Homo sapiens: one gene and its partners. The protein of the gene in region 1 interacts with the protein of each later gene in a pairwise test. Each region holds a gene or a part of one and is shown on either strand. Other genes may lie near its edges.

Evidence for each region.
Region 2: the proteins of TMEM120B (region 1) and TMEM143 interact in binary tests that used the Homo sapiens proteins (3 or more experiments, as listed by UniProt).
Region 3: the proteins of TMEM120B (region 1) and GAD2 interact in binary tests that used the Homo sapiens proteins (3 or more experiments, as listed by UniProt).
Region 4: the proteins of TMEM120B (region 1) and STX2 interact in binary tests that used the Homo sapiens proteins (3 or more experiments, as listed by UniProt).

The regions. Positions count from the first base shown.
Region 1 is NC_000012.12:121,715,298-121,723,248, forward strand, and holds part of TMEM120B (transmembrane protein 120B), read left to right. Parts: intron 1-7,951. UniProt on the Homo sapiens protein: Necessary for efficient adipogenesis. Does not show ion channel activity.
Region 2 is NC_000019.10:48,360,507-48,368,523, forward strand, and holds the start of TMEM143 (transmembrane protein 143), read right to left. Parts: upstream 3,435-8,017; 5' UTR 3,415-3,434; coding exon 3,392-3,414; intron 3,026-3,391; coding exon 2,785-3,025; intron 1-2,784. Other genes in the region: SYNGR4 (synaptogyrin-4), read left to right, coding at 5,337-5,429.
Region 3 is NC_000010.11:26,296,184-26,304,134, forward strand, and holds part of GAD2 (glutamate decarboxylase 2), read left to right. Parts: intron 1-4,604; coding exon 4,605-4,778; 3' UTR 4,779-7,951. UniProt on the Homo sapiens protein: Catalyzes the production of GABA.
Region 4 is NC_000012.12:130,788,604-130,794,705, forward strand, and holds the end of STX2 (syntaxin-2), read right to left. Parts: intron 3,375-6,102; coding exon of another isoform or gene 3,266-3,374; 3' UTR 997-3,265; downstream 1-996.

The DNA of each region.
Region 1 (7,951 bases):
ACTCCAGCCTGGGCAACAGAGCAAGACTCCGTCTCAAAAACAAAACAAAACAAAAAACAGCAACAACACTTAAGAGCTGTGCAATTAATGCAATTAACAGCAATTAGATAGCAAGTCTTGGCAGGCAGAGGTTGCAAAGGAGTTGTTTGACTCTTTCTTAGGACTTGGTCCTCAGATGCTGAGGTATGTTAGGGACAAAGGGATTGGGAATCAATTCTTGATTTTGTTCCCTGGTGCACAGCAAGGGTTGTAGAAGAAGGTCTGAGTGAGTGGAAACTGATGCCTCCTGCTCGGTTCATGATGGGGGAACTAGAAGGGACTGCATCCTACTTTGGGGAAGAGGGAGCCTGCTTGCTGCAGGCTTTGGTGGTCACCTGCTGGGTCAGGGGCCAGTCAGGGATGGCTCCCGGTGTCAAGATCATAGATCGGAGCAGAAACTGCCATCTACATCTTCAATTCACAGATGAGGAAACTGAAGCTTGGGCATGCTGATTCCCTGGACGGGGGCCACACAGCTAGTTAGTGGTAAAGTTGGGGCCATAATTTAGTTCTCTAAATATTGGTAGGCCCCTCTCTGCCTTCTCACGTTCCCCTTCATGTTAGATGTGAGAGCTCTGAACTCTCAAGATGCAAGGCTCTGGGACTCTGTATATGGTAAGTAGGATGTCCATTGCGTATGTGCTGGGCAGTTTCGGATACGAGATATTTGTTGGGAGCTCGGTGCATTGGCTCATACCTGTAATCTCAGCACTTTGGGAGGACAAGTTGGGAGGACCGCTCCCAGCAGGATTGCCCAGCAGTTTGAGACCAGCCTGGGAAACATAGGGAAACCCCTGTCTCTACAAACAGTAAAAAAAAAAAATTGCTGGGTGTGGTGGTGCATGGTTGTGGTCCCAGCTACTAGGGAGGCTGGAGTAGGAGGGCTGTTTGAGCCCCAGAGGTCAAGGCTGCAGTGAGCCATGATTGCACCACTGTACTCTAGCCTGGGTGACAGAGTTAGACCCTCTCTCTCAAAAAAAAAAAAAAAGAGATTTGTTGGGGAACAAGCAGGTAACAGCAGGTAGGTAGGTGGGCACACTGAACTAGAAAGCTTAACAATAGGAAGGATTTTTTTTCTACTAGAAAATCCTGGTCTATTTTAATTTTCCTACATCTTCCTTAGAATCCGGGTTGAGGGTTTCATATTTGTATCTCATTGATTCTGGGGTGATGTGTAACAATGTGTAATGTCTCTGTGTCTTACCTCTTTTTCTCTTTTTTTTTCTTTCTTTTTTTTTTTTTTTGAGACACAGTCTTGCTCTGTCGCCCAAACTAGAGTACAGTGGCACAATCTTGGCTCACTGCAACCTTTGCCTCCCGGGTTAAAGCTATTCTCCTGCCTCAGCCTCCTGAGTAGCTGGGATTACAGGCACCCGCCACCGTGCCCGGCTAATTTTTATATTTTTAGCAGAGACAGGGTTTCACCATCTTGGCCAGTCTGGTCTAGAACTCCTGACCTCGTGATCCATCTGCCTTGGCCTCCCAAAGTGCTGGGATTACAGGCGTGAGCCACTGCACCTGGCTTTCCTTTTTTGAATGAAGGAAAGAAAGAGCAAACCTAATTCTCAGACCCCAGAAGATTTGAAAGATCTTTGGAATTTCCCTCCTCCCCACCCCAAGAAAACCCAATGTAATCTCTGGGACTGAGGAGAGGAAAGGATCAGTTTTCTTTGGACTGTGATTTGCATGTGTCAGGGCCTTCCTGAACCCTGGGGCACAGTTGAGTCTCCATGAGGACTTAGTTTTTGGGTGGCTGGGGTTTCAGGCATGCTGGTGAGTTGAGTGCTAGTCTGAGACCAGTGTGCTCCTGGTCTCCTGGCCTGTGGCGTGACCGCAGAAGGTCACTTACAGACACAAGGGCAAGTAATTTAATGAGCATTTCCTGCCTTGCATCACTGGAAACCTGATCTCGTTCCTCCCAGCCAAGGAAGAAGGTGGCCCGTAGCAGCTTTTCCCTAAGTCTGACCTCACAGTGATGCAAGGGCCTTGAAGGCCATGGTAAAGATTTTGGCTTTTACTGCTAATGACATGTACATCCGTCTGGCTGCTGTGTATAGAATAGACATCAGGGAGACAGGCTCGAAGCAAGAAGATCAGCATTATTTCATTAATAACCCTATGAAATTGATCCTAGAATCTCTGTTTTACAGAGGTTAAGTCACTTATCCAAGGTCACATGGCCTGTCAGTGCAGGAGCCAGGATTCGAACCCAGGCTGTTGAACACCAGTGTCTGTGCTCTTAACTACTGCCCTAGGCTCATCTGTGCCCTGAGTACTCCTGTTAGCTTTTGTTTCTCTTCTATCTTGGCTTGTGGGGCGTCTTTCTTTCTTTTTTATTTGAGACGGAGTCTCGCTCTGTTGCCCAGGCTGGAGTGCAGTGGCTCGATCTCAGCTCACCACAACCTCCGCCTTCCAGGTTCAAGCGATTCTCCTGCCTCAGCCTCCCGAGTAGCTGGGATTACAGATGTGTGCCACCACTCCTGGCTAATTTTTGTATTTTTAGTAGAGACAGGGTTTCACTATGTTGGCCAGGCTGGTCTCGAATTCCTGACCTTGTGATCCGCCTGCCTCAGCCTCCCAAAGTGCTGGGATTACAAGCGTGAGCTACCGCACCCAGCCGGGCATCTTTCTTTAGTAGCAGATTGTGCAGAAAAAGACACTGCACAGGGAATCAGTATTCTTGAGTTCAGGTCCTAGCTTTGCCATTGTCTAGTATCTGAATTTGGTGAGCCACCTCTCTCAGGTTGAGTTTCTTTATCTAAAAACAAAGGCTGACAATAATAATAATCATAACAACAACAATAACAATAATAGCTAACTGCGTGAAACACAGATTATCCCATTTAATCTAAATATCAACCCATGGCCTGGCGCAGTGGCCCATGCCTGTAATCCCAGCACTTTGGGAGGCTAAGGAGGGCAGAGCACTTTGAGCTTAGGTGTTCAAGACCAGCCTGGGCAACATGGTGAAACCCCATCACTATAAAACAAACAAACAAACAAAAAACAAAAAAAAACCTTAGCTGGGCATTGGTCGCTCGCTCCTGTAATCCCAGCTACTTGGGAGGCTGAGGCTGAAGAATCGCTTGAACCCAGAAGGCGGAGGTTGCAGTGAGCCAAGATCGTGCCAGGGTACTCCAGCCTGGGTGACAGAGTGAGATCCTGTCTCAAAAATAAATGAATGAGTGAATGAATGAATGACAACCCTGTTTTTTAGATGAGGAGATTGAAGCTAAGAGATGCTGAGTAACTTGAAAGTCATGGAGCCAGAATTCGAACCCATGCCTGCTGTATAACTCAGATACTAATACCGTGGGCTCCAAAAGTATCCTGAGACTCTTAGCTCTAGAAGAAAAGTTTTGAACTTGCTGGGTCCCTTTTCATTTATATAGTGCTTTCACACAATGCACTATCAGGACTCTTAGTTGCAAATGAAAAAAACCCAGTCTGACTGGTTTTAAGCCAAAAGAGGGTTTATTGAGTCAAGTCTAGTGGCAAATGGCTTCAGGCAAGGCTGGATCCAGGAGCTCAGGTGATGTCTGTGTCTGTGTGTGGATGTCTCTCTCTCTCTCCTCTGTGTCAGCATTATTCTCAGGCAGTCCCTCCCATGTTGTGGCAAAGATGGCCAGGTGGCCCTCAGCTGACATCTGTCAGCTTAGCAGCTCTGGCAGAAACAGAGCATCCTTTCCCCCTGTGGTTTCAGCAAGCGTCCCAGGGCTGACTCTCATTGGCCCAGCTTGGGTCATGTGACTATGCCTTACTTAACCAGTCACTGTGGCACTGATTGGCCAGGTCACGGTCACATATCTGCTCCTGAAGCCTAAAAGTGGGATCAGTGCCACCACACTACATGAAACGAGTTGGGGAGGGATGGTCCCATGAAGGAAAATCAAAAAGCTGGTAGTTTAAAAAAAAAAAACAGAGAGAGGGATGCTGGACAGGCACCTTTTGGGGGGCTAATAGAAATTGTTGGCTGGGTGTAGTGGCCTATGCCTGTAATCCCAACAGGAGGCTGAGGCAGGTAGATCGCTTGAGCCCAGGAGTTTGAGACCAGCCTGGGCAATGTAGTAAGACCCTGACTCTACAAAAAACCACAAAAATTAGCTAGGCATGGTGGCGTGCACCCATGGTCCCACCTACTTGGGAGGCTGAAGTGGGAGGATTACCTAAGTTCAGGAAGTGGAGGTTGCAGTAAGCTGAGATCCTGCCACTGCACCCCAGCCTGGGTGACAGAGTGAGACCCTGTCTCAAAAAATGTTTTTTTCTTCAAGGGAAACAGTGGCATCGATTGGACACTGCTTAAATTGCTAACGGGGGTAGTTTAAGGGGGTGGTTCACAGTTGCATGTTAGGCCACACTGCATTCTTTTTTTTTTGAGACGGAGTTTTGCTCTTGTTGTCCAGGCTGGAGTACAATGGCTCTGTCTCGGCTCACTGCAACCTCTGCCTCTCGGGTTCAAGTGATTCTCCTGCCTCAGCCTCCTGAGTAGCTGTAGCTAGGACTACAGGCACATGCCACCACACCTGGCTAATTTTTGTATTTTTAGTAGAGACAGGGTTTCACCATGTTGGCCAGCTGGTCTCGAACTCCTGACCTCAGGTGATCTGCCCACCTCGGCCTCCCAGAGTGCTGGGATTATAGGCATGAGCCACCTTGCCCGGCCCACACTACATTCTTGATGATGTCACATCTTTGTGACAGTGCCTAGCCTGCTGCATGCACCTCATCTCCTAGCTCTTTCACAGCTGATGACACCGAGGCACAGAGGGATTACATAACTCAGCTAATAAGTGGCAGGCTCTGGATCTGAACTCGGGCAACTTGATGGCAGCATCAAATCACTTAACCATTGTGTTTTCATGCCACCCAAATGCGTGCCTCCCACGCACAGACCCCCACTTACCGCTCCCGTAACATACCGTTCATGGATTCTGACACATGACTCAGAATCTGTCCCGCACAGGACGCATACACGTTAGGCGAAGTCATCCTTGGTGGTGTTTCTATGGTGATGAGTCCTGGTTAAGTATAGTCAGCGTCTGAAAGTCTATTTGAAGTTGATTTCTTAGAGCTATATAAAAGTAATCTCTTGTCCAGGCACAGTGGCTCATGCCTGTAATCCCAGCACCTTGGGAGGCCAAGATAGGCAGGTCATTTGAGCTCAGGAGTTTGAGACCAGCCTAGGCAACATGGCAAAACCCCTGTCTCTACAAAAAATACAAAAATTAGCCAGGCATGGTGGCACAGGCCTGTAGTTTCAGCTACTCGGGTGGTTGAGAGAGGAGGATCGCCTGAGCCCAGGGAGGTGAAGGCTGTGGTGAGCAGCCATGATTGTGTCACTGCACTCCAGACTGGGCGACAGAGTAAGACTGTGTCTCAAAAGAAAAAAAAAAGGAATCTCTTGAAAGTTTACCACCAGCAAGAGGCACAGCTCTAAGGCACCACACTTAAGTGGCGGTATGGCCCTATTGCAGTCTACTGGACTGCCCAGCGACTTCTGATGCTCCTGGGCCAGAACCATGTCTGTAAATGCCGTGAGATTCCTCTAGCAATTCCTGCAACACATGTTGACTCCCCAGTCCTGGATCTTCCGACAGCCAAGATGTGTTAAGGAGGTGTCTTCAGATGTTTCACATCTGTACTGGGAACAGGAGTCATTAACCTCATCTTCCCACTGGGGCAGAGCTTGGGTCTCAGAGGACAGCAGAGGTGGCAGAGATCCCTGAATCTTCCAAAGGAAACTTGCTTGTTTGTGTCTTCTACATGCGGAGGATGGTAATTAGACAAGTAGGGAAGATGCTCTGGGCATGACAGCTCACAGAGCTCATGTGAGCAGTTCTCCTTTTTGTTGTTGTTTTGTAAGAGAGGGTCTCACTTTGTCGCCCAGGCTGGAATGCAGTGGTCCCATCATGGATCACTGCAGCTTCAACTTCCTGGGTTCAAGTGATTCTCCCTCTTCAGCCTCCTGAGTATCTGGGACTACAGGCACACACCACCACACTTGGCTAAGTTTTGTAATTTTTGTAGAGATGGGGTTTTGTCATGTTGCCCAGGCTGGTCTTGAACTTCTGGCCTCAAGCATTCCTCCCATCTCAGCCTCCCAAAGTGCTGAGACTATAGGTATGAGTGCCTGGTCCTCCTTTTTTTTTTTCAACCAAGAGTTTCACTCTTGTTGCCCAGGCTGGAGTGCAGTGGTGCCATCTTGGCTCACTGCAACCTCCGCCTTCTGGTTTCAAGCAATTCTTCTGCCTCAGTCTCCCGAGTAGCTGGGATTGCAGGCAGGCACCACCACGCCCAGCTAATTTTTGTATTTTTAGTAGATGGGGTTTCACCATGTTGGCCAAGCTGGTCTTGAACTCCTAACCTCGTGATCCGCCCACTCCAGCCTCCCAAAGTGCTGGGATTACAGGCATAAGCCACTGCATTCAGCCCTGGCCCTCCTTTTTTTTTGAATGGAATCAGTTCTACTTTTTTTTTTTTTTTTTTTTTTGAGACAGCGTCTTGCTCTGTCGCCCAGGCTGGAGTGCAGTGGCTCAATCTTAGCTCATTGCAACCTCTGCCTCCCGGGTTCAAGCGATTTTCCTGCCTCAGCCTCCTGAGTAGCTGGGACTACAGGCATGTGCCACCATGCCCAGCTAATTTTTGTATTTTTAGTAGAGTTTCACCATGTTGGCCAGGATGGTCTCGATCTCTTGACCTTGTGATCCGCCCGCTTTGGCCTCTCAAAGTGCTGGGATTATAGGCGTGAGCCACCACACCTGGCCTTTTTTTTTTTTTTTTGAGATAGAGTCTCGCTCTGTTGCCCAGGCTGGAATACAGTGGCACGATCTCGGCTCACTGCAACCTCTGCCTCCCGGGTTCAAGCGATTCTTCTGCCTCAGCCCCCTGAGTAGTTGGTATTACAGGCGTGTGCTACCACAGCAGGCTAATTTTTTTATTTGTAGTAGATACGGGGTTTTACCATGTTGATCAGGCTAGTGTCGAACTCCTGACCTTGTGATCTGCTCACCTCAGCCTCCCACAGTGCTGGGATTAGAGGCGTAAGCCACTGTGCCCGGCCTCCATTCTACATTTTTATAAGTAATACATATTCACACAGTTAAAAATTCATGTAGCAGCCATGCATAGTAGTTTTTATAACACAACTAAAAACTGGCAACCTGAACGTCCGTGGGAATGGATCATTACACTGAGCACCCAGAGAGAGGTGAAGCAGGAGAGTGAATAAACTGAGCTACCTGTGTTAACATCCTGCAGAAAGTTGCAGAGGGGTATGTACAATGTGGCACTTGCAATAAAGGCAAAAACATTGAAAACAACACAGTATATTGCTTAATGATACATTGTATGTAGTCCAAGTATAAAGACTTGCAAAGGAGTGATAAAGACCACAGTTGGTGCTATCATGGAAATTCAGACAGGGCCCAAGCAAGAAGTCAATGGCTGTCTCAGGAAGGTCTCGCTGAAAATAAGGGGCTGTTTACAAAGGTGTGGGCAGTTTTTTAAATTTACTTTTTTTTTTTTTTTTTGAGATGGAGTTTCGCTCTTGTTGCCCAGGCTGGAGTGCAATGGCGCGATCTTGGCTCACTGCAACCTCCGCCTCCCGGGTTCAAGCAATTCTCTTGCCTCAGCCTCCCAAGTAGCTGAGATTACAGGCATGCACCTCCACACCCGGCTAATTTTGTATTTGTAGTAGAGACGGGGTTTCTCCATGTTAGTCAGGCTGGTCTCAAACTCCTGACCTCAGGTGATCCGCCTGCCTCGCCTCCCAAAGTGCTGGGATTACAGACATGAGCCACCGCGCCTGGCTTTTGTTTGTTTGTTTGTTTGTTTTGTTTTGTTTTAAGAGAGAGGGGGGTCTAACTCCATCGTTCAGGCTGAAGTGCAGTGGCGGTATCATAGCTCACTGCAG
Region 2 (8,017 bases), on another chromosome or scaffold:
GGCGGAGGCTGCAGTGAGTCGAGATCGTGCCACTGCCCTCCAGACTAGACAACATCAAGACTCTGTCTCAAAAAAAAAAAAAAAAAAAGTTTTGTTTTGGTTGGGTGGGGGCTGACCAATTTTACTGAAACTGAGGCAGCCAAATATAGTGAAAAACTATACTGGGCTTAAAAAGCTGGAGGTTCAAGTTTTTGCTTTGACATTTCCTAGCCAATACACACACACACAATTCCAGGAACGGTTTGACAGTGTAATATCATCCTCCAGAAGTAGATGGAATTATTATTATTATTATGTTGAGACAGAGTCTCGTTCTGTCACCCAGGCTGGAGCTCAGTTGTGCAATCTCAGCTCACTGCATCTTCAACCTCCTGGGATGAAGCGATCCTCCCACCTCAGCCTCCTGAGTAGCTAAGACTACAGGTGCCCACCACCATGCCTGGCGAATTTTTTTCAATTTTTTGTAAAGGTGGAGTCTCACTATATTGCCCAGGCTGGTCTGAACTCCTGTGCTCCAGCAATCCTCCCACCTCAGCCTCCCAAAGTGCTGGGAGGCTGAGCCACCATACCCCCAAGGTTGATGGAATTATAACTCCCATTTGTCAGTGGGAGAAACTGAGGCTCTGGAAAAGTCATTTGGTAAGGGCTGCAGTGTCTGTGGGAAATGACTGCTATCTAGGCCTGTCTGACTCCAGGGTACACATTGAACCATTTCCTTTTTTTTTTTTTTTGAGAAGGAGTCTCACTCTGTTGCCAAGGCTGGAGTGCAGCGGCCATGATCTCAGCTCACTGCGACCTCTTCCTCCACGGTTCAAGCAATTCTGCCTCAGCCTTCTAAGTAACTGGGATTATAGGCGCCTGCCACCACGCCTAGCTAATTTTTGTACTTTTAATAGAGACGGGGTTTCACCATGTTGGCCAGGCTGGTCTCAAACTCATGACCTCAGGTGATCCACCTGCATCGACTTCCCAAAGTGCTGGGATTACTGGCGTGAGCCACCATGCCTGGCCTTGAACCACTTCTTCTTCTTTTTTTTTTTTTGAGATGGAGTCTTGCTCTGTTGCCCAGACTGGAGTGCAGTGGCACGATCTCGGCTCACTGCAAGCTCCGCTTCCCGGGTTCACACCATTCTCCTGCCTCACCTCCCAAGTAGCTGGGACTACAGGAGCCTGCCACCTCGCCCGGCTAATTTTTTGTATTTTTAGTAGAGACGGTTTCATCGTGTTAGCCAGGATGGTCTCAATCTCCTGACCTCGTGATCTGCCCGCCTCGGCCTCCCAAAGTGCTGGGATTACAGGCGTGAGCCACCGCGCCCGGCCTTGAACCACTTCTTTATGTTTCCTATGTCAATGTCCTGGGTAATTGTCTTCACTTCTCTGAGCCTCAGTTTCCTCACTGGCAACAGAGGATTACACGCTCTTTCTTGGAGGGCTACGGTGAGAATTTGATGAGATTACACATGTCCTATATACACATGTGTTTACATATATGTGCATATATTTGTATATTTATGTGTGTATATTTGTGTACTTTTGTGTGCATATATTTGTGTGTGCGTGTATTTGTGTGTGTGCATTTGTATGTGTATATTTGTGTATTTGTGTACACATATTTGTGTATTTGTGTGTGTACTTGTATGCATATACTTGTGTGTATTTGTGTGTGTGTATTTGTGTGTGTATCAAGTCCAGCACAGAATTGAGTACATACAGTAGGTGTTCAGTAAATAAATGTTAAATTAATGAATGATGGTGAGGTGTGGTGGCTCATACCTGTAATCTCAGCACTTTGGGAAGCCAAGATGGGCAGATCACTTGAGGCCAGGAGTTCGAGACCAGCCTGGCCAACATGGCAATACCCTGTCTCTACTAAAAATACAAAAATTAGCCAGGCAAGAGTCCCAGCCTCTCGGGGGCTGAGGAAGGAGGATCACTTGAGTCTAGGAGGCAGAGGTTGCAGTGAGCTGAGATTGTGCCACTGCACTCCAGTCTGGGCAACAGAGTGAGACCCTGTCTCACAAAAATAAATAAAGAAAAATAAATGAATAATAATCCTCAAAATCCTCAATAATGACAATGATGATGATGGTGGCAATAAGACCTCAGGTTCTAGAGTGAGACCAAGACTAGGATGAGGTGAATATGGCACCCAAGGGTGCAAAATTTAACGGGGCACTCACTCTTAGGGTCAAGCGAGTGCCCTACTTGCCTAACCCTAGTCCTGGGCCAGCTCTGGAGTCAGACCACTTTGGTTCAAATCTAAGCCACTATGTTGTGGCCTTGGGTAAGTCACTTTCCTTCCCTATGCTTCCATTATCTCATCTGTAAAATGGGGATGATGGTGGTATCTCTCTTACTGATGATTCAACAATACATGAAAAATGTCTGGCACAGTGCCATGGAGTCAGAGCTCAAATTGTGTGATAATAATTATGATTACAGCGTTGTGACTTTATAGGTACAATTATTATCAGGTAGTAGAAATAGTAATGATGAGGATGATTACTATACCCATCTTAAAGAGGGAAAAACCATGCCCCAGAGAGTGCCTGTTCAAGCCCTCAGAACAAGCCAGAGTTGGGAATGGATGCTGCGTCTGCATCTCGGAGACCTGGCTCCTGCATTCCAGCTCATCTCCCGCCCACTAGGGAAACACGAAGGGACCCGGGAACTACAACTCCCAGGAGGCGCCAGGGCAGCTCTCTGCAGCAACTAGGGCCCTGCCGCCGCGAAGCCTGCTGGGAGCCGTAGTCCCCAGGCTCTTGGGCCTGGGACAGGCGGTACCTGTATTAGGAGGCGGAGCAGCTGCTCCTTGGAGAAGGGAATGAAGCGCTCGCGGTACTGCTGGGCCCAGTCGCGGGGCTCCCTGGGGTTCCACATCTTGCGATACTCCCCCATTTTGGCTGCCAGCGATGAGAGGGCCCGGGGGGGCCCGAGGAGCGCGGGCAACAGTGGCCATACTCGGACCCTGGACCCCCAGACCCCCCGGGTCACATGCAGCATGGCTAGACCCTTTCCCCGGAGCCTAAACAGAGGAAAATGGGCAGGGGTCAAAGGCCATCTAGAGGAAAAGCGCCCTCTCCACCTCCACGTCCCACCCTCCAGAAGCCGTCTCTACCCCAGGCAGGGCGCAGAGCCCATCCGCTCGCCTCAAAGCCCCTGTTGCCTGTCCCCTTCCCACACTGCTCAGTTGGCCTGGGTCCCAGACAGGGGTCAGAGGTCTTAGGTTCTGGGGCGTTTTTCAGGCCCAGAGACCCTGTAGTGGTACAACGTTTCTTTGGGGTCTAGACAGCGAGGTAGATCTTAGGAGAGCAGGAAATGCTCGTAAAGGTTACCTAGGGGGTGCAGGGCCGCCCTCCCTGGCCATGCAATCCCCCGATTTCTCCCTCACCTTAGCCAAAGCTCGACTGTCATTGAGCCTCCTGCGCATGTGCAGGAGGGCGTCCTGGGCTCCCGAGGTTCGGCTTCACCCAGCAGTAAAACGCATGCGCAAAGCTTCGGTCAATGCGGGCTGTCCATTTCTCACCGCCGACTCCCTACATCAACTACGCATGCGTTGCCTGCCTTTCTCCACCGCCGGCCTCGTTTGGGCGCGACGCATGCGCCGCAGGAGTGTCTCCTTGTCAGCTTGCTACAAAGGGAAGGGGCGGTGTGGACGCGAGACTCCCTAGAGGGATGGGGCGGGGTAGGGCTCCCGCGCGCAGTCCGCCAACGGCGCGCAGTCCAACGTTCGCCGAGGCCACGCCCCGGCTCGTGTCAGCTCCTGAGTAGGCGGAAAGAGGGAGGGGGCGGGACTTGGGCGCAGCCAATCAGCTGTGGAGGAGCGAAAAGGCGGGAAAAAGCGGAACCAAAAGAAGGCTGAGGTGGCGCTAGGGACCAGGAGGGGTGGGGGTGGCGAAAGGAAGGGCGGGCCCTCAGGTGACGCAGATTGGCCCTCCAGAGAAGGGGCGGCCCCTTCTCAGGTGCCGTCACCCCCAAACCTCAGCACTGCCATTCCAGGTCCTTAAAGGGGAGACCGCGATTCTAAGAAGGTAGCCCAGTGCCGGGGCGTGGCCTCATTCTGAGGTTCCCCACAAATCCGAGGTCCCGACTCCCAGCTTGAGGAGGTGCACTTCCGTGAAAATGGAGCTGAATTCGAAAGGGAGGCCCTTATTCTGGGAAATGGCCCCAAGTGACAAGGACAGCCTGAAATATGCCCTGAGATACCTGGGTTCTCCACGAAGGGTGCTGTCACCCCCAAACCTGAAAGGGATTATTCGGTTTCAGACCTCCCAGGGGCTCTGATCTCAATGGCCGCACCCCCTAGTCCCCAGAAAGTCCCACCTGTGTCCTCTCACAGAAGGACCCAGTCCCTCTGCAGGCCCTTCAGCTCCTGGGTCACAAGACGTGGTCCCCAAATATCCCAGCCCTCCCCTGCACTCCACCTCTGGGATCCCTGACAGCCCTCTCGCCCAACAACCCCCTCAGCCCACATTCCTGACTTCTGGAACCTGAAGCAGCCCCTTCACTTATGTCCCCCACTCCTGGGACCCCCAGAATCACCCTCACCCCAGGCCCTCACCTCTCTGGAATCCTCCATAGACCCCCTTAACCCACACCTCAACCCAGGGGACCCTTAGCGACTCTCTCATCCTGCACCTCCACCTCTGTGACCCCTGGCAGCCCTCCCCACACGACACCTTGCCTGGGACCCCTAGTATCCCCATCCTATGCCCCCCTCTCCTGGGACCCCCAGAAAGCTCCCTCACCACACACAACCCCATTCCTGGGAACCCCCAGCACCCGCATCCTATGTCCCCCACTTCAGGGACCCCTAGCAGCCCTCTCCACACAACACCTTTCCTGGGACCCCCCAGAACCCCCATCCTATGCCTCCCACTTCTGGGACCCCTAGTAGCCCCCTCACCACACAACCCCATTCCTGGGACCCCCAGCACCCCCATCCTATGCCCCCCACTCCTGGGGCCCACAGAAGCCCCCTCAGCACACACAACCTCATTCCCTGGGACCCACCTGCACCCCCATCCTACGTCCCCGACTTCTGGGGCCCCTGACAGCCCATTCACCCCACACCCTGACTCCTAAGAGGCTCAGCAGTCCCCTCACCCCACACAACTCCATTCCGGGGACCCCCCCCATCCCCACCCCATGTCCCCCAATCCTGGGGCCCCCAACAGCCCTTCCACCCCGTGCCCCTGACTGGCATCCCCCATCTGTGTCATCCCACAGCAGCCAAGCCCAGGGCTGGCCTGAAGCCCCCGGACGGCAGTGCCCAGCAGGCAGCGCCCAGCACCCTGGCTCCCACCTCCCAGTGGCCCCAAAGGAAAACAGCTGCCATGCACATCCCCAAAAGCCTCCAGGAGCTGGCCAACAGCGAAGCCGTGCAGTTTCTGAGAAGGCCCAAGACCATCACGCGGGTCTTCGAAGGGGTGAGGCCCTCCCATGGCCCGACTGTGCCCCTGGGTGACAGGAGCCAGGAGCTCTCAACTCCCAGACACAGTGCGGGAGATGGGAGGACAAGGAAGGGGTCAGACGGGGAAACAAGACAACGGAGCAAATGCTGACACCACCTTTTCCTGAGCACCCCACTATAGGCCCTATGCTATTGAGGCACTGATGGACTCTCATAGTAAGGAACAGCCCTCACAGTAGGTGCTGCAAGTCCCATCTCTGAGATAACAAAACTAGGGCTTAGAAAAGTTAAGTAAATTTTTTTTCTTTGAAACAATCTTAATTAGCCAGGCATAGTGGCACACACCTGTAATCCTAGCTACTGAGGAGGCTGAGGCAGGAGAATCACTCGAACCCGGGTGGTGGAGTTTGCAGTGAGTGGAGATCATACCACTGCACTCCAGCCCAGGCAACAGAGCCAGACTCCATCTCAAAAAAAAAAAAAAGAAAAAAGAAAAGAAAGAAACAGTTTCGCTCTGTTGCCCAGGCTGGAGTGCAAAAAGCAGTGGCGTGATCTCCGCTCACTGGAACTCCACCTCCTGGGTTCAAGCGATTCTCCTGCCTCAGCTTCCCAAGTAGCTGGGATTACAGGTGTGCGCCACTGCGCCTGGCTAATTTTTGTATTTTTAGTAGAGATGGGGTTTCGCCATGTTGGCCAGGCTGGCCTCAAACTCCTGACGTCAAGTGTTCTGCCCACCTCAGCCTCCCAAAGTGCTGGGATTATAGGTGTCAGCCACCGCGCCCAGCCTAAGTAAATTTTTTAAATCTGGGATGTCCAGTGGGGTAGCCACAGCCACATGTGGCTACCTCACTTTGCACTAATTAAAATAAAAGTCCATTCTTCACTCACAGTGGCCACATTTTAGGTGCTCAACAGCCACATGTGGCTGGGGACTCTCATATTAGACAGTACAGGCTGGGTGTGGTGGTTCATGCCTGTAAAACCAGCACCTTGGTAGGCCAAGGCAGGCAGATCATTTGAGGTCAGGAGTTCGAGACCAGCCTGGCCAACATGGCGAAAACCCATCTCTACTAAAAATACAAAAATTATCCAGGCATGGTGGCGCAAGCCTGTAGTCCCAGTTACTTAGGGGGCTGAGGCTCAAGGATGGCTTGAGCCCATGTGGCGGAGGTTGCACTGCAGCCTCGGTGACAGAGTGAGACTCTGTCTCAAAAAAAAAAAAAAAAATTGTGGCTGGGCACGGTGGCTCACACCTGTAATCCCAGCACTTTGGGAGGCCGAGGCGGGCGGATCGTGAGGTGAGGAGATCGAGACCATCCTGGCTAACACGGTGAAACCCCATCTCTACTAAAAATACAAAAAAATTAGCTGGGTGTGGTGGCAGGCGCCTGTGGTCCCAGCTACTCTGGAGGCTGAGGCAGGAGAATGGCGTGAACCCGGGAGGTGGAGCTTGCAGTGAGCCGAGATCACACCACTGCACTGCAGCCTGGGCGACAGAGCGAGACTCCATTTAAAAAAAAAAAAAAATTAGTGCAGATATGGGACATTTTCATCATGCCAGAGAGTTCTATTAGACAGCATTGGCTAAGGTCACGCAGTAACAGGCAGGGGCAGGATTCAAACTCAGATCTGTGAGATGCCAGAGCCCATTTATTTTCCACCTCCCAGTTGAGGGAGGAGGAGAAGGAGAGGAACAGGGGCTGGGGCTTCTAGGAAGAGAATAAGGAGTGCAGCCCTGAAGTGCCAGATGTTGGGTGGTAACCGTGTGCCAGGCACCATGCCACCGTTCATTTCATCATCCCCACACTCCTGAAGAATCTGGACACCTGGAGTCAAATCCTCATTCAGCCCAGACTTTGCTGTGTGATCTTGAACCAATCACTGTTCATCTCTGGATCTCAGTACATGAAGGGTTAGGGCTGTGGCTCTGACCTTTAACCTGTGCTGCTTCCACCACTCCGCTTTAACAGAATTGGAAACTAAGGCCCAGGGAGATGTTGAGACTTGATCGAGGTCTTAGGAGTAGGTGGAGTTCCCCGGCTCAGACCCAGGGTCTCCACCCCCAGAGTGCTAATCCAGAGTATCTCCTCTCTGCCCCTTCTAGAGCCTGAGCTTGGAGAAGGAACAAACAGGCCTGGAATCCTGGCTCAGGCACGTGCTGTCCATGCAAAGTGGCATACTGCCCAGTTTACCTGGGCCAGGCCTGATGTCCTTACCAGCAGCAGCAACTTTCTTTCTCAAAAGTGCCCCTTTGGTTTGATGGCTTGCCTGGTCACCCTGTGTCCGTGTGACCCTGAGCAAGCTATGTGATTTCTCTGAACATCTCCTTACTCTCGTCTGTAAAAAGAGGATCCTAATAATCTACTCCTAGGAAGAATCATTGTGAAAATGTAACAAATTAATGCCTATAAACTGATTAGCATGGGCCAGGCAAGTAGTGATCTTTCCTTAGTGATTTTTTTTTCTTTTTCTTTCTTTTTTTTGAGACAGACCCTTGCTCTGTCACCCAGGCTGGAGTACAGTTGGTGCAGTCTCAGCTCACTGCAACTTTCGCCTCCTGGGTTCAAGCAATTCTTGTGCCTCCGGAGTAGCTGGGATTACCAG
Region 3 (7,951 bases), on another chromosome or scaffold:
CCTAAGACTGTGCCTTCCTGAACTAATCACCTACCAAAGGCCCTATCTCCTAATATCATCACATTGAGGGGTTAAGATTTCAACATATAAATTTTGGGAGGACAGAAAAATTCAGTCTATAGCAAATACCTTAGGCATATTCCAGAATAAGGAAGGGAAACAACATTTAGGAAACCTAATAGTGGCTCATAAGCCTTTTTCCAGAGTGCACTATTTGGGGACAAATATCTGGATAACAGAAGTTATTAATAAAGCAAATACAGTCATATCTTCATGAGGGTGGTAAACACGAGAATCCAGTCAGTGTGCTTCCTGCTGCTCTGTCAGGACTATGATCTTGCAGATGGCGCTTTGTCCCTGAGGCAGTGCAGATGATGAATGCTTGGGGCACTATGAGGATGTGACGCCACACACATGCCTTGGACACAGGGAGGGGCAGCAAGTGGGCTGTGCCAATGTTTACCAAACAAGAATCAAAAGGGCTGGTCTATTGATCACCTCTTGTGTTTCTGGTTCTTTATCTTCTTATTTTAATTTTTTTTATTCTTGATCATTATCTGGTTCTGTCAGCTTTTATAGTCCTACACTGATTGGAGGACTTTTCAAAGGTTAGCAGTGGATTTAATACTAAATTTGTAAGGAAGTAGCCTGGACTTATATTTAATACAGACTCTTTGAAAGTCTGTGTTATTAAGTGCAATAGAGGATTTAATTGGTGAAATTTTCGCATATTAGAATTTTTTTTTTTTAAGACAGGGTCTCACTCTGTTGCCCAGGCTGGAGTACAGTGGTGCCATCTCGGCTCACTGCAACCTCCACCTCTCAGGTTCAAGTGATTCTCCCACCTCAGCCTGCCGAGTAGCTGGGATTACAGGCACACACCACCACACCCAGCTAATTTTTATATTTTTTGGTCAGGACAGGGTTGGGACGGGGTTTCACCATGTTGGCCAGGCTGGTCTCGAACGCCTGACCTTAAGTGATCGGCTCACCTCGGCCTCCCAAAGTGCTGGGATTACAGGCATGAGCCACCAAGCCTAGCCAACAGTTTAGAATTTCTCATTTAATTATTCTGCTTTTACATTTTTCAGAAATTTCTCGCAGTCTTCCAAAATGTAAAAACAAAGAGGTTTTCTAAGACATAGTGAAAAATACATTTCTGTGATATCTTTTAAGTTTATTTCATAATGCTTTACTATGCACCCTCTTTGAAAGGGACAAATGTGGATTCCAATTATGGAAAAGTCGCCTGGTTATTGCTTTCTAAAGGACTGAAAAAGCTAATGGCACAAGAGAGAAGACAATACCCTAAAATTATTAAGGCAGGCCCAAAGAGCTCTTGTTGACTATACCTTTAGCGAATTCTTCAACATGCAACCACTCTTTCTCAACTTGCGTTCTTTATTTAGGAAAACTAGGAATCCAACCAAAAAGTACAAAAGCCTAGAAATAAGTGAAATCTCTATGTATTTCATCCAAAAGACCACTGGGATGGCTAGATAGTAGAAAGGAGAGCTTTATTGATGATATCAGTTTGCAAACTGGGAAGAGACAGCCTCCAGCATGTGTGGAAGGTGCCCTCTCTTCCAAGAGAGGAAGGGCAGGTTGGGTTTTATGCCTCACAGGGCCTGTATCACACAGTAGAGTCATACATATTCAGTAGGTTTTGGGGGAAAGCTATCCATATTTATGAGGGGAGCTGAGCACATGCAGAATGAGTAAACATATATGTAACATACATCCCATGTTTACTTCGGGGCAGGGTTTTAGTGTTAGAATGAGGTGAAATTTGGCTCTTCATGTCAAAAGGTGAACTGTAGGACATAAACACAGTTTGTGCACCGCATCTATAAGCTGCTAAAACTGGCTTAAGGTCTGCAATTGCTTACCAGGAAAGAATGTGTGTAAGGTCAGTCTTCTGTCTAGTCAGAGTTATAGTGGTCTGGTTAGTAAATCAGGGTAAGGAGGGGGTCTCATAGCGCCTATTGTTAGGGAATTTCAATCATTAGGAATTTAGTAATTTGCCCTCCAGCCAGGCCTTGAACCCTGGACCCATCTTAGTTGATATAGGAGTGTCTATTTTGGCCCCACAGATCACATATATTCATCAGAATAGTCCGAATCTTATTTTCCTTCTTAACTTGCAATGAGTGAATATACAACGAAGTAGATGTTCATGTTCCGGCTAATTTTAGTTCATCAGCATTTTCTGGAAGCAACCAAAAGTCATATGTATTTAGACAGCTGTGATTTCTGCCAATTCAGCTTGCTTCGGGAACTGAGGGGATTCAATCTTACTTTATGCCCAAATCTGTTTGCTTGTGGCTGTTAGCATTAATCTTTTAACCTTTGATTTGCATTCATCTGAAAAGCTAGAGATGATTGTCCTTAATAATTAGTGCCATTCTTCTGTATTTTTGCTTGGATTACCCATGAAAACTAAATGAGACTTTAATTTACTGAGTAAAGCTCTGTCATTATTTTATCAGTTCTAAAGGGCAAGCGTGATTTATTATACAAATAAAACTAAGGAATGGTTATGTGACTTGTCCTTAAATTCCTGCAGCCAAGTGGATTTGGAATTCCTTTTCTAATCTGAGATTTATCTTCGCAGGAACCACATTGACTTGACACGCCTCACAACACAAAGGATAAATTCCATGCCCCTTTGGCTGGAATATGCTAGTAGATCTATTTTCAGAAGTTAATCTCAGATTTGAGATATTTTAATTCTTCTTCTTATTTATTCCCTGGGATGAGTCCAGTGCTCTGCATACATTCTTAATGCTTTAGGTGAAAGAAGGATCAGGCCAAGAGAAACATTCCTCCCCATGGAACAAGGGGTGGGAAGGGATATAAGAACTCAATGTAGAGTCAGAAGATCTCAATGCTGGAATCATCCACGTTCATTTTTAGAGAAGGAAATTAGGTTCAGAATGAGAAGTGAAGGTGAAGTCTACCTGTTGACCTTGTCTTTGGTAACTAACAAATGATTGGACCCAATGGGAACATTGCTATTTTATGCATTGGATACTTTGAAGATGAAAACTTCATTATAAACCAATGATTATTTAAGAGTTGATATTTATAAGTCACATGTTCATAACAGCATTCCATTTGAATTGAACTGTCTATTTAAGATAAATCCAGCTGTGATAGAAGGCATGGTCTCCATTTTGAACCGGGTTTCTGACCATATGAAACTCAAAGAAGTCTAAAAGTTTCTCTGATGTCTATCTACCATTTGCAGAAATGAAGATCAGATATTATATATTTACAAACTCCAGTGGTAAATATATGTGGATAGACTGTATGTACAGTTAGACATGATTTAAGTTTTTGCTTCTTCCTAGATAGCTGTTTCTATTATGCTACTCTTTATAGCAATAAGAACTTAGGAATCCCCCAACATGAACCAAGCACTGTGCTGGTAAAGAACAACAACAAAAACAGTAGAAGACACTGTGTCTGCCCTCCAGGACCTGACAGTTGAGGTAGAGAAAGAAAATGTATTTGCTTGAAAGTAAGAGGATAGTAGGAAATTAGCATATAGTCAGAATCTATGGGGAAGGATCATGGATGATATGTTTACAGCTTAAAGGAAGAGAGCTACTGATGGACACTAGAAGTCAGGAAAGGCTTCATAGCAGTTGTAGGACTGTGGTGGAATCTTGAAGTGTGTGTAGGATATGAACCAGAAGAGAAAAGGGATGGATTCTAAGCACAGAGAACAAGTATGACATAGTAACACTGATGACAAGTGTGAAGGGATAAAAATACATATGGTAAATTCAAGAGATATTTAATAAAGGAGTCTTGTCAGAGTTGAAGATTCATTTTGGCAAGTGGTGGAAGATGAGGCCTCATAAATGGATGATGAAAGGTCTTTGCACTGAACTAGAGTTTAAACTTAATTTCATATACAATAGAGAGCTACTGAGGCTATAATCAAAAATCTGGCATAAATAGAGTATAATCTCGTCTGTGGTATGCTATCCTGTCTGTGATATGAAACATATGTTAAGTCCTTGTGAGTTCAGCTTTTTGTCCCAGCTAATTATCATCATTATTAAGGATTATCTTTCAAAATATCTTATAAAGTGAGGCACTGCAAAGAGAGAACGAAAAGAAACTAGAAAGCTCTGGGGTTTCAAGAAAGTTGCCAAAAGTCTGCTTATCTTCATATATCACCTGACACTCAAACTTACATTTTGGTAACAATCCTCTGAACTGTTTATTTCCAATGTTTTTACATTTACTGTGGGGGGAAAATGCCCCCAAACGTCTTGCTAACCCATTTAGCTTGGGGCCAATACTAGATTCATCCCATCCTCCCAAAACACTAACTGGAAAGTCAAGGACAAGGTGGCAGGCAGCTGATAGTCTATCACTTATTATTCCTCTTATCACTTGCAGGATCTTGAATGTGTTAGACTGTTCTAATTCTCTGATCCCAAGAAAACTTGGAGGTAACTCTTTCAAGAGAAAACAATAAGGTTCTGACTGTTGAGCTAAAAACTAAAGACGCTGCTTGCTGTTGGGTTCTTTGACTCAGGGGAGAGTCCCAGGAGAAAGTCACCATGCTGATATGGTCTGTCCCACAGGTGGCTCCAGTGATTAAAGCCAGAATGATGGAGTATGGAACCACAATGGTCAGCTACCAACCCTTGGGAGACAAGGTCAATTTCTTCCGCATGGTCATCTCAAACCCAGCGGCAACTCACCAAGACATTGACTTCCTGATTGAAGAAATAGAACGCCTTGGACAAGATTTATAATAACCTTGCTCACCAAGCTGTTCCACTTCTCTAGGTAGACAATTAAGTTGTCACAAACTGTGTGAATGTATTTGTAGTTTGTTCCAAAGTAAATCTATTTCTATATTGTGGTGTCAAAGTAGAGTTTAAAAATTAAACAAAAAAGACATTGCTCCTTTTAAAAGTCCTTTCTTAAGTTTAGAATACCTCTCTAAGAATTCGTGACAAAAGGCTATGTTCTAATCAATAAGGAAAAGCTTAAAATTGTTATAAATACTTCCCTTACTTTTAATATAGTGTGCAAAGCAAACTTTATTTTCACTTCAGACTAGTAGGACTGAATAGTGCCAAATTGCCCCTGAATCATAAAAGGTTCTTTGGGGTGCAGTAAAAAGGACAAAGTAAATATAAAATATATGTTGACAATAAAAACTCTTGCCTTTTTCATAGTATTAGAAAAAAATTTCTAATTTACCTATAGCAACATTTCAAATGTATTTAAATACATATAATTTTACAAAAGGAAAATATATATATTAAAAAAGATATCCTATTTTGTAACATATAGATTTTTATTTTATATAGGTTATACAAACTGCGGGGGCAGATATAAAATCTAAGCCAGATTTTTTTTTCCTTTCTCTTAATGGAGGCACAATAAAACACTTAGCAAAGTTATTTTGAAACATTGACCCACGAAATTCTTAAAAGGTATTATTGCTTCTTTCTATACATGTTATGGCTTATCACATCTCTAAAGTTAGTATTTCAAGACAAACACAAAAGAATACTGCGAGTTCTTTAAAATAATTGATCCCATTGGCAGTAAGATTCTCTTCCCCTTTAAGTTTTCCACCCATTTTACTCTTAGCGGACTCACTCTGCAAGCGTGACAAACCAGGCTTCATCTCAGATTAAATTAGGGTAATTGTCTCTATTCTGCTTTCCAGTTCGGCCTGTTTTGAACAGAAGGTTGATGCTAGTTCTTGAGGCATCTTCCAAATAGTATTCTTTTATTAGGTCATTTGAATTAATTAGAGAAAGTAAAAATAAAACCTTATCAGCCTGAGCAAAGAGGAATGAAGCACACTCCCAGAATGTGGTGAGCCCAGAAAATTAAAGTTGGCCTTGGGAGAAGAGATCTCTGTGGGACAATAATGACATCATCCTGGCGCCATATTGCCACTGTCCAGGAAAGAGAAATTTACCTCCAGGCCAGTTGCGCATTTCCATCCCCTCCCCATTCCTCCCCACAAAGTCTCTCCCACTAGACTCCCTACCACTGGGACCCAAAATAGTTACTTTATATTCCATGGGTGGTTGTTTTTCTTCCATGAAATGAGCCTCTCACCCTAGATTTTGAGGCATTATCTTAAGATTTTCCTTTATCCATCTCCCATCGAGATCCAAAGTGACCAGAATATGCAGAAATAATAAGATCCTTAGAATTCAAAATAGTATTTTTAAAACATCCTTCTTTCCCTGTGAACCTGATAGAAAAACATGAGCTAACAAAAGCTTCCATAGATATTTATGGGGTCACACATCGTCAGATTCCAAGTGCTGATTGGAGAACAATAGATTGATATGCAGACTGCAAATGCAAATTTAGGAACATTCTCCATTTCTGAATGGACCAGGTAGTTCAGTACTCAGACTGCAGGTATACAAGGGAAGAGAGAAGGCCCTGCCCTTCAACGGGTAGAAATGCCCTACAATATAACATAGAGAAATGCCCTATAATATAACCACAGGATCCAGCCATCTGAAATTTTCATAAGCTTCCCCCTACATTATTTCTCCTAGGCTATATGCAAAAACAGTGATAACTTGATATGAACATGGCTTTGGGCCCTTTCTGTCTAGAAAAACAAATGGGTTCACTATGACAATCAGAAATAAACTCTTTCATCTGTCCCGCAGAATTTCATGAAGGAGTAACCTTCCATTCTAGGCTTTGTCTAATGGCCAAGCATTAGACAAAGCATTAGAAAGCAGTTCCTTTCTCAAAACTGCCTGCTGAGAATAAGCACATAGCTGCCCGACTATCCGGAGCCTCAGGCCCAAAGGTTCCACTTCAGAGACAGAGATGCTAATTGATCCAACCTGCTGTCCTTCGTGGAGAAGACAGTGGGGCCCAGTGCCCTGGTGAACCAACCCTGCTGTACTCCAGGATGCTTTATCTTTTGAGTTACAGATCCTAGATTATAAACTGCTGCTTTTTAGGTTAATGAGATGGTAAAATTTTAAAGGACAATTTGTGCCTATATATGAAATTCCAGCAAAACAATTCTAGCAACAACAATAGCTCTTCTTCCCCGCTCCCCTACCCCTTCCCAGTACTCCTTCAAATTGGCTGAGAGCCTTGCTCAGGCCTGTGCAGGGAAATCCTTACCAACTGTAGCCCAAAGAAGGAAGCAAATAAAAGCCTAGTAGGTCCCAGTAGTTTAATAAATCATCTTGAAAGGAGATGTGGAATCAGGTCAGAAGAGAGTAAGGGAGGAAGGGAGGGAGGGAGGGAGGGAGGGAAGGAGGGAGGGAGGAAGGAAATGAAGGGAGGGAGGGAGGGAGGAAAGAAGGGAGATTATTTTTAATATTAGCCCAAATTCCCAGTGCCATGGTCTTTATGTGTGCCCATTCTTTACAAATCTTAGAAAAGTTTGGTTTTAGCTTTAATCAGAACTGACATGGCCATTTTCATTTATACAGCAATATTGTGTTTATCATTTAAAATACTTGAACAAACAAGTGTGATATGTCTTTATCTGAGACCTATACATGGTATGGACTTCATATACTGCCACAGGATGTGAGGAAAGAAAAGGAAATCAATTCTGACTGTGTTGCCTTTATTATCTGGATAATACTGTCTTGTCACCTCAGATTGGGGTTGTGCACTTTAGATCTGAACTGTACAGTGTTGCAAATCAACATGTGTTTCTGTAAAAGCTTGTACAATATATTATTGATATGTCTTTTTCTGTGTGGTAGCTGTATTGAACTTTGATATTATGAAAACTACATTTGCATCTGTTCCTGTTCTCTCTCTCTCTCTCTTTCCTAACTATATGCCCTCCACATCGGCTCTAATAGAGAACATGCCCTCAGCTAAGCCCCCTACTGAGAAACTTCCTTTGAGAATTGTGCGACTTCACAAAATGCAAGGTGAACACCACTTTGTCTCTGAGAACAGA
Region 4 (6,102 bases), 9.1 Mb from region 1:
CTGTATGGTCTGTTCTTTCCTTTAGGGCTCGCTTTTAACAGTGAGTGTTGTTGTGGCAACTAAAATAAGGAGCCGGCCAGTGCTCCTAGGGAGGAAAACCTCGGCAACTCCGCAGGTGCAGGCACCGGCCACAGACCCACGCCTGGGGCACTCGCGTTTGCATTAGCAGAGCGCAGGAGTCAGGGAGCGCGGGCAGGGGCGGGAGGAGGGGTCTGCGCACTGGCCACGGTGTGGGGGACCCAGCCCTACCCCTTCCCGGGGCTGAGTGGGACTCGCCACGAGGCCAGCAGTTTTTCCAGGTTTTTCTGCTACTCTAGTGGACATGCAACCTTTCCAGTTTGAATTCCACCTCGGTTTAATCCACTTTTTAAACTCATGAAAGGATGTGAGTGTAGATTTGCTGAAGACATTCATAAAAAGTCATTTAGGCAATAAATACTATAGGATTACAGTGTCTTTAAAAAGTATAAATAAATTATTGACTGTACACGTCAAGACTGATTTGGAAGGAAATTCATTCTGGGAGAAATAGAGAAATAGATTAAAATTAACATCTAGGGCTCTGTCTCCATGAATTAGTTTTCTCCAGTTCTATCTTCTCTTTTTTTTCAATAGTGGTTTTCAACTGTCACTTTCCAATATGATCAGAATTCAGTTGAGGAAGTAAAGAAATTCTACTTAATAAGAAAAACTCTGAATGAGGATTAAGTATAGAGGATAACTCAGAACATAGTGGGGGGCGGGGAGATCCCCCCATTAACAAATGGAATGTGTCAAATTGACAAAAGAATTCAAACAGAGTGACTTTGAGATAGAGCCCAAATTCACTGACTTGGTATCTGTTAGAAACAGCAAGAATTCCAGCAAGTCCCTTAATACATGGTACTGACAACTGAGCCGTGAACCACAGAAGCTTGTAATATACACTAATCATCAACAAATCACCAAATACTCCAAAAATTACATCATGACACACAGTAACAGCCACAAGAGCAATTTTCCTAGTAGAACAATTTATTAATTAATATGCAATAAAATATCTCCCCAAAATCTTTCCAGAAATGACAAGGCAGGAAAGTGAATACTTTTATGCTTCTCTGGAAATTTTTAATGTAAACATGAAATATTTGAAGAACCGATTAAAAAGTCTCAAGTGAATCTGTAAATACATTTTTAAGTCTGACTTCAAATCGGTACATGAGGCTTAGACATACACATCATTGGACAAGTGACTTAAATATCTAAATACAAATCAAATAGCATTTTCCTAACTTCAACTATAAAAACACAAATTTCAGTAGGTACTGCAAATCTAAGAAGAATAACTTGAAAAATACCATAATAAGTGTTGTAAAAGGGGAGGACTCATATGACAGACCTTGAAGGAAAGGTGGGACATCACGGGAGGCAGGTCCCCCTGTGGACATGATTCCACAGAGGCGTGGAGTCCTTTTGCCACCAGCATGATCCTGAAATATTGAAAACCCTCAAGACAAGTGATACCTTCAACATAGCCACAAATCAGTGAGCACATCCCACGACAGGGTGTTTAAAGACCAAAAGAAAAAGAACAGTCAGAGGCAGAATTCCCCTAGTAACTGCCACACAGTGACCACCAGCGAGTGATCCAATGGACGCATCATGGATGAGGGAGATTCGGAATTGTGTTAAGTAAGGGACGCGGCTTCTGAGCCATTCAATATTCTCCACACCTGTTTGGAATCAGGCATCTCTACATTAGTTTCAAACCAAATGGTGTTAAAAGTCACATGCTTACACTACTACATACAGGAGTAACAAGAGTTCACGACATTTGGGGCATCCTGCATGCACTCCTTTAACATTCTGACTAGTGACTCTCTTAACAGATGTCCGCTCACCAGTTCATACATTTTACAAGTCTAAAAATAAGTGATATTCTTCTACTAAAAAAATGAGCAATAAAAAGGTTTAATTATCATGAATCCCTATACATTTTGGAAATTAACTTTTAAAAGTTCAGCAAAACATTAGGTACTTAACAACATGTATGTGGATCTGTACAATAGTTTAAATTTGTAAGAATTACTCCATGTCTCAGGAATAATTTCCTCGAGTCCCGAGAGTACTGAACCTCAGTTTCATCACCGTCTTAAATTCAGACTTCATTCATGTAAACTGGGAAACTCGAATCTCCTATTTAGTGAAAAGAGACCACGGTCTTTACAGTGCAGTAACCATTCATTATCCTGGGGGAGGGAACAGGCGGAAACGGAGCTGAGGCCGAGGCTTTTCTGGAGGGCACCAGCACATTTAAACTCACAGAAGGCACTTGAGGGCTTTGAGGGGCTTTGCAGCCAATGTTTTCCGTGACAATGGGAAACTTTAAACAACTGTACAAAGGTGGCTCCAACACCATGAAGCTTCCTATTTCACTCAAAAGGCCACATTCAGTATATAAAAATGGGGTACATTAAGATGCTAATAAATTAAACAATTTATAAACATTTAAAATTATAGATATCTTACAAAAACGTGATAAAAATTATTTCTTCAAACAGGCAATAAAACAGTATAAAAGGTCTCTTAATTAGCACAAACTAGCTGGGAGAGGGAGGGAAAGGAAGCCTTAGACCTGAGATCTAAAAGCTTCAGAACAGCCTGCCCGGTGACTCACGCCTGTAATCCCAGCACTTTGGGAGGCTGAGGTGGGTGGATCACAAGGTCAGGAGTTTGAGGCCAGCCTGGCCAGCATGGTAAAACCCCGTCTCTACTAAAAAGAAAACACAAAAAATTAGCTGGGTGTGGTGGCCCATGCCTGTAATCCCAGCTACTCGGGAGGCTGAGGCAGGAGAATTGCTTGAACCCGGGAGGCCGAGGTTGCAGTGAGCTGAGATCGCACCACTGCACTCCAGCCTGGATGACAAAGCGAGACTCCGTCTCAAAAAAAAAAAAAAAAGCCTTCATAACATAAAGCATTCCTTCCTAATTAAACTTCATGCACATTTGTTAACACTGAAATATTTTTAATATTAAAATGTTCAATATTTTCTTATTTCAAGGCCAGTGAGAGAAGTCTCACACTGCTCACATTCTGTAGTGTGTCATTCAGGGTCACGCATCACACCCACTGTGCTTACGGCGCTGTCACTGAACAAGACGTTCGGTTGTGCTTCTTCCGTGAACTCATACATTACAAGGTCAGCACTCGATGCCGGGTTACAGCGTCTGAGATTCATTCACGAAATGACAGGATGCTGATTTGGTTGCAGATGTGGTCTGAGTCTCAAGGATAAATGGCTCTTGGGATATGGTTGCTAGGACAATGTTGTTGCTAGGATAATTCCAAGGATCACAAGCAAAACAATTACACAAATAATAATGAACATCAATTTCTGCAAGATAAAGAAAAACATTAATTTGCAATGTATCAAAGAAATCAACAATGGCATTTGCTAACTAATCCTTCTGGGATTTGGGATAGTTTAAAAAATACATCCATTATCAAGAAAGGACTCCTCCATGTCATAGAAAAGAATGTGATCTTGGCTCACAGCAACCTCTGCCTTCCGGGTTCAAGTGATTCTCCTGCCTCAGCCTCCCGAGTAGCTGGGACTACAGGAACCCGCCACCACGCCCAGCTAATTTTTGTATTTTTAGTAGACACGGGGTTTCAGCATGTTGGCCAGGATAGTCTCGATCTCTTGACTTCGTGATCCACCCGCCTCAGCCTCCCAAAATGCTGGGATTACAGGCGTGAGGCACCAGGCCCGGCCGACACTTTCTTTTAATCATAATAAAACTCCAGGATTGCTTTTAATTGGATGAATTACACATATTTGTAAAACTTTAAACGAATTTCTTGTTGGCTGAAAAATCCTATTTTTTCTTTCTTTTCTGAAAGGAGGTGTCACTCTGTCGCCCAGGCTGGAGAGCAGTGGTGCAGACATGGCTCACTGCAAACACATCCTCCTGGACTCAAGCAATCCTCCCACCTCAGTGTCCCAAGGAGCTAGGATGACAGGCATGCACCACCATGCCCAGCTAATTAAAAAATATGTTTTTAAGAGATGGGGTCTTGCTATGTTGCCCAGACTAGTCTCGAATTCTTGGGCTCAAGCGATCTTCCTGCCTTGGCCTTCCGAAGTGTTGGGATTACAGGCATGAGCCACTGCACCTGGCCTTATCCATTTTTTACATTTAAATATGACAAATGTGTAAGAAATCAACAAGACATTCATTCATTCTTCTACTGCACTGATGGTCTGGAAGCAGGGTGCGACACAGCATTTAACTTTTTTAAAATTAACAAGTATCCTCACACAAGGCAAAGCGAGACCACCTTTGGCTTAATAAATGGAGTCTCCTCCAGGAAGCTTGTCTGAGGGAAGGAAAGGAAGACACAACAGGAGGCACCGCGCTGTAGGACTTTGAGTTCTCTTTTTGAACAGCAGAGATCCATCATTTTAATTACAGTTCCAAATGTACGAGTGCTTTTACCTAAGAAATCCTGTTTGCTGAGCCTGGACAGTTCCAAGACTGCCGGCTCAGTCAGTTATACAGGGTTATCAAGAGGCGCATGGCAGGCCCCGGTGAGCCTCCCAGTGACTCCTCAGGACCGGGGAGAGCTGCCTGCAGGAGGGCCCCTCCCTCAAACTCTGGTTCCCTGTTAACATCACGCACATTTCCTGCAAAGCCCCAGCCACTCTCTCATCCTCTATATGCGCTCCTACGCCCCACTCTCAGCACCTTCCTAGAGAAACCTCTTCTTCCTTTTCTCTGTGATGCCTTCCCTCCCTCCAGAGGGAGGCGCGCGCCCTCCCGCTCAGCAAGTGAGTGTGCTGGCAGCTGGGCCACCTGGAGTCAGCTCCACGCAGCGTGCTCTCATCTCCTGCTGCTGTTGTGCTGCCTGCCACGTGTCTGGGTGCTCGATGTGTGTGCACTTTCCTGCCACATCTGGCTTTCAGGATGACTGTCAACTACATGGAGTCTAGGGTACAGGACTCAGGAGTCATCTAATCTCCTGGTGACAGCGAGAGTGGAAAGGGTACACCCTGGGGAGTCCAGCTCCAGGTCTGGGCCAGGGCCCTCTCACCGAATACCTGTAAGACTCCACCTGTCTCCTTAAAGCAGCCCATCCCACCCATGCTCCGGGGTGACAGGCCTGCACCTGGCACACCCTGCAGGGAGGGGCAGCAGCCAGCCCCAGGAAGGCCAATTGCTAAAGGATGAAAGGCTATGTTAATATTTTAAAAGTGAAGTTAAGGACATTAACCACTGCCTTCCTATGCAAAGATAACTGCTGGTATTCATTTTGGTCTGCTTTTTATGAATGAGGATCCTTCTATGTTCATTCTTATTTACAGACACTAGGGTGAAATGGCCAGCCAGGCCCGGGGCACAGGACTTCAAGCCCCACTCCCCAGGGGTCACACTGAGAGGAGCCTTCTTTTAGTCAACCTTAATGCCAAGTAGTGCCCATGAAAAGTCGCGCATTTCACTGTGTCCGCGCTACAAATTGTAATTTTATCTTTAGTGTAACCACATTAAACTAACCATATTATAGCTACTAGGAAAAAACTCAGAAAGTACATGTTAGAATCATGAAAATATTGAAAAATACTACTATAACAATGAAGAAAAATCACGTACAATATTTTCAGCAAAGCTAAGAAGAAAAAAATAGAACATCTTGCCTAATAAACATCCTACACAAACATCCTGCCTAATAAAAATAGACGGTAAGAGAGTTCTGACTGCCAAATAATGGAATGTTAACACACGCAGCATCCCAGAGCTCCTTACAGAGTAATTTCAGGTGTAATTTTGTGGCTTTTGCATAAATGTCAGAAGACTAACTGGAAAACTTCTCATCTGGTAACTGCATGGTGAGCGTAACAGATGCTCACATTAAGATATCAATCTCTTGTTTTGAGATGGTCTCGCTCTGTCACCCAGGCTGGAGTGCCGTGGTGCGATCTAGACTCACTCTAGCCTCGACCTCCCCAGGCTCAGGTGATCCTCCTGCCTCGGCCTCTGGCGTAGCTGGGACTATAGGCACGTGTGCCACCATGCCCAATTAGTTTTTGGATTTTTTTTTTTCTGTAGAGACAGGGTGTTGCC